2 linked regions of the Homo sapiens genome follow. The protein of the gene in region 2 purifies or fractionates together with the protein of the main gene of each other region. This does not show direct contact. Each region holds a gene or a part of one and is shown on either strand. Other genes may lie near its edges.

Region 1 (3,500 bases), on a different chromosome or scaffold from region 2:
ATTCACAACTTAAAGAATAATTTGCACATTGATTCATTGAGGAAATGTTTAGTGCCAGAAACACCGCGTCAAATGGTGGGAGTAAAATAGCAAGCCAGATGCATACAGCACCTATCCTCAGGGAGCTTAAAGTTTAGCAATCAAAAGCTAGAGTTTATGCATTTCCAAGTCCAGAAATACCTAAAAACAAGAGTTATTTGGCCAGGCATGGTAGCTCATGCCTGTAATCCCAGCACTTTGGGAGGCCAAGATGGGTGGATCACTTGAGGCCAGGAGTTCTTCAAAAACAGCCTGCCCAACATGGCGAAACCCTGTCTCTATTAAAAAATACAAAAATTAATCAGGCGTGGTGGCGTACACCTGTAGTCCCAGCTACTCAGGAGGGTGAGTTGGGAGGACTGCTTGAACCCAGGAGGCAGAGGTTGTAGTCAGCTGAGATGGCACCACCGCACTCCAGCCTGGACAACAGAGCAAGACTCTGTCTCAAAAAAAAAAATTTAATTATAGTCTTCAATTTATTAATCCATTATATCCTAGTCTGTATTATGTATTTTATAGTCTATTAATTAATAATGAATGCAAAAAAGAAAGTTTTACTATCATTTAAAGGTTCTTAATGTTAAGGTCATAAATTCGTTATTTGATTTTTTTTTAAATCCTGAAAGCAGAATTAAATATAATGATACGTATTGGGGATTTGTGGGCCAGAATGTATTCTCAATTAGTAGTTTGGCAAGCGATCTTTGGTTGTCTCTTGTCAAACACATTTCGATTCTAGTGGAAGCTAAAAGGTTGGGGTAGCAGGCAGCAAGGTTAATTAATGGGAACTTACAGAAACATTCCAGTAAGAGGTAACTTAAGGCATTTTCCTTATAGATTCATTTTCTGGTCAGTAATTTAACAGATACCTCCAATATATTGGAACACTTAAAGTAGCAATGGTAATAAAGTAATAATAGCTGTTAACATTTATTGAATGTGTATTATGGGCAGCATTGTGTTAAATTCTTTATATGCACTGACTTTTTAATCACCACAGTACCGTTTGAAATAGGCATGTAAGCCCATTAACAGATAAGGAAATTGGGACAGAAAAATTGAACATCTTGCTCAATGTCACATAACTAATATAACTAGTGGAATTGGGATTTGAACCCGAGTCTTCTTTCTGCAGTATCTGTGCTTTTATACACTGGATTGCTGCTGCTTGCTAAAATTAGGTTGTATTCCTGGAAGCAAAGATGTATCTCAGTATATATTTTAGCATTATTATAAAGCTATTAAACAACATTTTTAAGTCACTTCAGTGTTTAGTTCTACAAGTTTTCTATTGAGAAATAACTGCATAGTTTTTAACACTCGGACATCAACTGGTATGGCTAAAATCATAAATTGTATAGACCAAAAAAATCATACCACAATTCATTTCTCCTATGTCAAAGACATGATTTTGTGTTTCCAGAAGCAGTAGTGAATGACACAAGTGGAGAAAACAAATCTGGCGCAGCAGACATTGCAGCAAGCCAGCATGTGATGGTCTGTGCCCTCCAGGAACTCGGGAGCCTGGTGCAGAGCTTGAATGCCACCGCATCCCCTCTTATTCAAGAAGCATCTATAGGTATGACATTCAGTTACTTGCTAGTATGTGTTTCCACTTTTTTCAGTCATAAGTGTGATTGATATTTAATTCCTGATTAGTTGCTTATCATCATCATTAGCACTTCAGATCATCAGGTTTTACTTAAATTAATATTCATTGTGATAGGCTGGGCGTGGTGGCTCGTGCCTATAATCCTAGCACTTTGGGAGGCCCTGGTGGGCAGGTCACTTGAGATCGGGAGTTCAAGACCATCCTGGTCAACATGGTGAAAGTCTGTCTCTACTAAAAATACAGAAATTAGCCAGCTGTGGTGACACGTGCCTGTAATCTACTTGGGAGGCTGAGGCAGGAGAATTGCTTAAGCCCAGGAGGCATAGGTTGCAGTGAGCCGAAATCATGCCACTGCATTCCAGCCTGGGGGACAAAGTGAGTCTCAAAAAAAAAAAAAGTTTCCTTGTAAAGAATATTGAATTAAATGGTTAAATAAAGTTTTGGAACAGAAATCAAAAGCAATTGTGGTAGTTTTTTTATAAAAATTGACTAAAATTTGTTGAAGACTTCTATTAAATTTTACATCAATATTGAATATAATTGTACTATGTTCTTCATAGAAAATGTTCCTTTGAAGTACTCTACTGTATGTAGTTTTAGGCAAAGTTGTGGATCTATATGTGTGAAAGCTTGGTGATTGTCATTTCAGTTATTGTTTTTTAGATAGTATTTGAGTTTCTGAAATCATTTGACTTCATTAAAGAGTAATATTTTGAGTATTTCTTGTTTAGGGCTTTTGGAGATTGTGACTTCAGTGCTGCTTCATCCAAGCATGGCTGCCCGACTTGCTGCTGCATGGTGTTTGCGCTGTGTGGCTGTGGCATTACCTTTCCAGCTGACACCATTTCTAGACAGGTGTGCAGAACGGCTCAACAACTTGAAGACCTCACCAGAAGCTGTCAGTGGATATAGTTTTGCAATGGCTGCTTTGTTAGGTGGAGTACATCAGTGTCCTTTGGGCATTCCTCATGCCAAAGGAAAGGTATGACGGAGATCCTAGACTTGGGAATGCTGTCACGTGGGCTTTGGTCTTTATAGGAACGCTGCTGTGTTTAGTGTTGAACAGGGTGGTCAAATAACAGTTGTACTATGTTATCATAAAACATAGTGTTCTTACTATGGTGTTAACAGACCCTATTATAATTTGATATTTAATTCTGATGTAAGGATAATAGATTTTGTCCAAGTCTAGTAACATGTTATAATTTATTTTAGAGGGAAAGAGAAAAAAAACAGCCTAGGCAACATAGTGAGACCCCATCATTACAAAAAATAAAAAAAGTTAGCCAACTTCATGGTCCTAGCTACTGGGGAGGATGGGTTGGAAGGATCACTTGAGCCCAGGAGTTTGAGGTTACAGTGAGCTATGAACATGCCACTGTCCTTCAGCCTGGGTGACAGACCAAGACCTACCCTGTCTCAAAAAAAAAAAAAAAAAAAAACCCAACCTTAGATATAGTAATTATTTGAAAGTCAGAGCTTTTCTTTCAGCTTTTAGAAATAAAAGTTCACATTGCTATATATTCAAAGATGTCAGGATAATACGCTATTGTAATATTTAGCATTTTGATAATGTTTAGTAAAAATTGAGTGGTTTTAATAAATCATGGCCGGGCATGATGGCTCATACCTGTAATCCCAGCACTTTGAGAGGCCGAGGCAGGTGGATCATTTGAGATCAGGAGTTTGACACCAGCCTGGTTAACATGGTGAAACCTTGTCTCTACTAAAAATACAGAAAAATTAGCCGGGCATTGTGGCCCATGCCTGTAATCCCAGCTACTTGGGAGGCTGAGGCAGGAGAATCACTTGAACCCAGGAGGCGGAGGTTGCAGTGAGCTGAGGTTGC
Region 2 (3,500 bases):
CTACCTCTTAAATTACTTAACTATATATTAAGAATGCTTTGTAAAATCAGTCGTCTGCCCCAGCAGTTCTTTCTTTTTCTTCTTTCCTTTTTTTTTAAAAAATGGGGAGTAGATACATAGTTGAAGGAAAAAGTGGAGCCCAACAGGACCCAGATCTTTTTATTGTATTTTTTTAAGGGCTAAAGTAGATCAGATTGATTTTCTTTCCTCATACTTCATCACAGCAATATGACGTCCAATTTGACCAAAATAACAACTAGGTAAGTAATTGCTTGATTAAAATCTCATGTTTGGCATTGCCTGAGACAGAAATTCTAATAATTGATAATATTATGACAGAAACCCTAATAATTGATTAAAAGTTAGATGACATTATTTTCATTTTAGTTTTGAGAAACTGTCAACTTTTAATTATTTTGCCATGTGCATTTCACATGACCATGTTTTAAAGGCACATTTTCCAACAAAGTCAAGATGAAGGGAGACATGTTTTAGGCAAGGAATATCAGTACATTTTTAAGTTGATAAGGGAACAATTTATTAAATGACCCTAATCTTATATCAAACAGTGTATACTTTGGTAGATGAACCTCCTATCTTTTTTTAGTAATTTTTATAGCCAAAGAAAATGGTTCTTGGTAACTAAATGTAAATGCCAACTCAAGGCTAATGTGGGTTTTTTTAAGATCAGATTTTACAGCCCAACTCTTAATTTTAGTACAAACTCTAAATTTAGCTAATTTCAACATAGTATAAAACTAATCAAATATGCTAGGCATTTTGCTTCTACAGAGTTTAGGGCATTTTGCCTAAATTGCTTGCCTCTAATTGTGGGGTCTTATTTCCCTTTCAGATATAGAGGACTTAAAATATGCTGCTTTTGGAAGCTACAGTAGCAATTTTGCAGTGAGCACACTTACAAGCTATGACTGGTCAGACAGGGATGATGCAACTCAGGGCAGAAAACTCTCTCCATTTGTCCTCTCAGCAGGAAGTGGATCCCCCTCAGCCACCTCAATTCTTCAAAAGAAAGAGACTTCATTTGGCAGTTCTGAAAACATCACCATGACATCTCTCTCCAAAGTAACGACCTTTGTAAGTGAAGATGCTCTTCCAGAGACCACCTTCCCAGCTCTTGCCAGTTTTAAAGACACGATTCCTCAGACCAGTGAGCAAAAGGAATATGAAAACAGAGACTATAAAGATTTCACAAAACAGGACCTGCCTACGGCTGAACGGAGCCAGGAGGCCACGTGTCCCAGCCCAGCGTCCAGTGGTGCCTCTCAAGAAACCCCGAACGAATGTTCGGATGACTTTGGAGAGTTTCAAAGTGAAAAGCCCAAAATCAGCAAATTTGACTTCTTAGTAGCCACTTCACAAAGCAAAATGAAATCCAGTGAAGAAATGATCAAAAGTGAGCTGGCAACCTTTGACCTTTCTGTTCAAGGTGAGTAGCTTCCAAGGTAGATTTTACTATTGTGGTTTTTTTCCACTGAGATGTTAGATGTTCTTAAGAATAAAATGTTGCTCTCTGGTTTCGCAGGAAATAGATTGTTCTAATCTTTGAAATCAGGGTCAATTACAGATAGCTATAATAAAGATTTCCCTGAGACGGGAGTCAAAATCAGCATCCCTCAGATAACTGCTTTATGGGCTAAAAACAAGCACAGCATGCAGGTATTGCTCATTAGCTCGTTTGGTTAGAGGTGTGCTGTGTTAAAAGAGCCAGATAAATGGATTCGAGCCACTTGTAGGCACATTAGCTCCGCTCATGTTCCCTGAGCACAGATAATGTCTTTTAATCCAAAGGTTGCAAAGTGGGGGCCGGGGATCTGCATCTAGCCTGCATATCACATTGACCCACACAAAAGATTTTTAAGTACGAAGTAATTGCCAGTATTTAAAAGACATGAGATTTCCCAATCTGGATTTCCAACTTTTCTTGAGAAGTCATAATATCTGGCACTAGTAGGTCTACAGTCCCATATGTTGGCAGCTGGAGCCGAAGAGCACCACTCCCTGTAGGTGGGTCATTCTCTCTCTCCTACCATAATCCCCACCGCTTCCTGTCTCAGCGGACCTACTTAAGTTGTTCACTTTACTTGCCTGGTCTCTGAAGGCATTTGAGTTTGCCTCTTCTGCTTTAATCTCATCCTGACAGGAGGGGTCGTTGATTTCAACTGGATTGAGAGACTGTGAAGGAACTCGGTTACAAATCCATAACAAATGACTGGAAAAGCCACACAACTCTTACATACTGATATTTAGAAAGGTGCTTTTGTTCTCCAGACTCCAGTGATTCTGCACTGGGCATTATGGAAGACTTGTGATAGATCAGAGAAGAGTCATGTTGAAAACGAAACGCAGGGAAACCGTGCAAGAGAGAACAGTAGAAAAGATTTAACATGTAGCTTCCCAGAAAGAATGAATGAGGAATGTGTTTGTGAATGCCTCATGACATAAGCATCTGAAGAAGAGGGTCGTGGGCTGGGCGCGGTGGCTCACACCTGTAATCTCAACGCTTTGGGAGGGGAGGCAGGCAGATAACTTGAGATCAGGAGTTCGAGACCAGCCTGGCCAACACAATGAAACCGTGTATCTACTAAAAATACAAAAATTAGCCAGGCATGATGGTGTGCACCTGTAGTCCCAGCTACTCAGGAGGCTGAGGCAGGAGAATTGCTTGAACCCAGGAGGCGGAGGTTGCACTGAGCCGAGATCACACCACCGTACTCCAGTCTGAGCGACAGAGCAAGAATCTGTCTCAAAAAAAAAAAAAAAAAAAAAAGAAGAGGGTTGTGGTAGCGAGGAAGAGCCTCTGCCTGAACTAAGGTGAGTAGCCAAAACCTTTGACTGTATTATCCCCTTCTCCCAGGATCACACAAGAGGAGTTTGAGCCTTGGTGATAAAGAAATAAGCCGTTCTTCTCCTTCTCCAGCTTTGGAGCAGCCTTTCAGAGACCGTTCCAATACTCTGAATGAGAAGCCCGCCCTGCCCGTCATCCGAGACAAGTACAAAGACCTGACGGGAGAGGTGGAGGTGAGAGGAGAGCTTTCTACAAGGGGTGGGTAACAGACCAGCAAGCACACAGGGCCCCAAGAAAGAATGCTGTCAGCTTTCACATGGGGAAAATGAGGGGCAGAAAGACACAAAGCACCAGACATAAACTATGTAATTAAAGTGAGGCAAGGGTAACATTAGCCCTGGGTGAAAACATTTCCCAGGTGTGGCACCCACTGAAACTAATCAGTGACCCTAAAACCAAAACTATTCATGGGACTTCACAAGGATGGCAGTGTTTGTATAATTCTTCTTGAGCACTTAGACTTTATTGTCTTCATGAAACCTCAAAATAGAGGAGACAGGGAAAATATTCTGAATTTTTTATTTCTGTCTGCTGCATCTTAGTGCCACGCTATGTTCCTCCTATGGTCAACACACTTAATTTCCCACCTTTCCCTACTCCTTGTTACATGTGCACATGGGCCACGTCCTCACAC

The links. Proteins that work in one complex are often made in the same cells at the same time.
Region 1: the proteins of SYNRG (region 2) and HEATR5B purify together in Homo sapiens (affinity purification with western blotting; one study listed by BioGRID). This does not show direct contact.

The regions. Positions count from the first base shown.
Region 1 is NC_000002.12:37,063,873-37,067,372, reverse strand, and holds part of HEATR5B (HEAT repeat-containing protein 5B), read left to right. Parts: intron 1-1,462; coding exon 1,463-1,618; intron 1,619-2,382; coding exon 2,383-2,633; intron 2,634-3,500.
Region 2 is NC_000017.11:37,539,919-37,543,418, reverse strand, and holds part of SYNRG (synergin gamma), read left to right. Parts: intron 1-853; coding exon 854-1,447; intron 1,448-2,875; coding exon 2,876-3,039; intron 3,040-3,500. UniProt on the Homo sapiens protein: Plays a role in endocytosis and/or membrane trafficking at the trans-Golgi network (TGN). May act by linking the adapter protein complex AP-1 to other proteins. Component of clathrin-coated vesicles.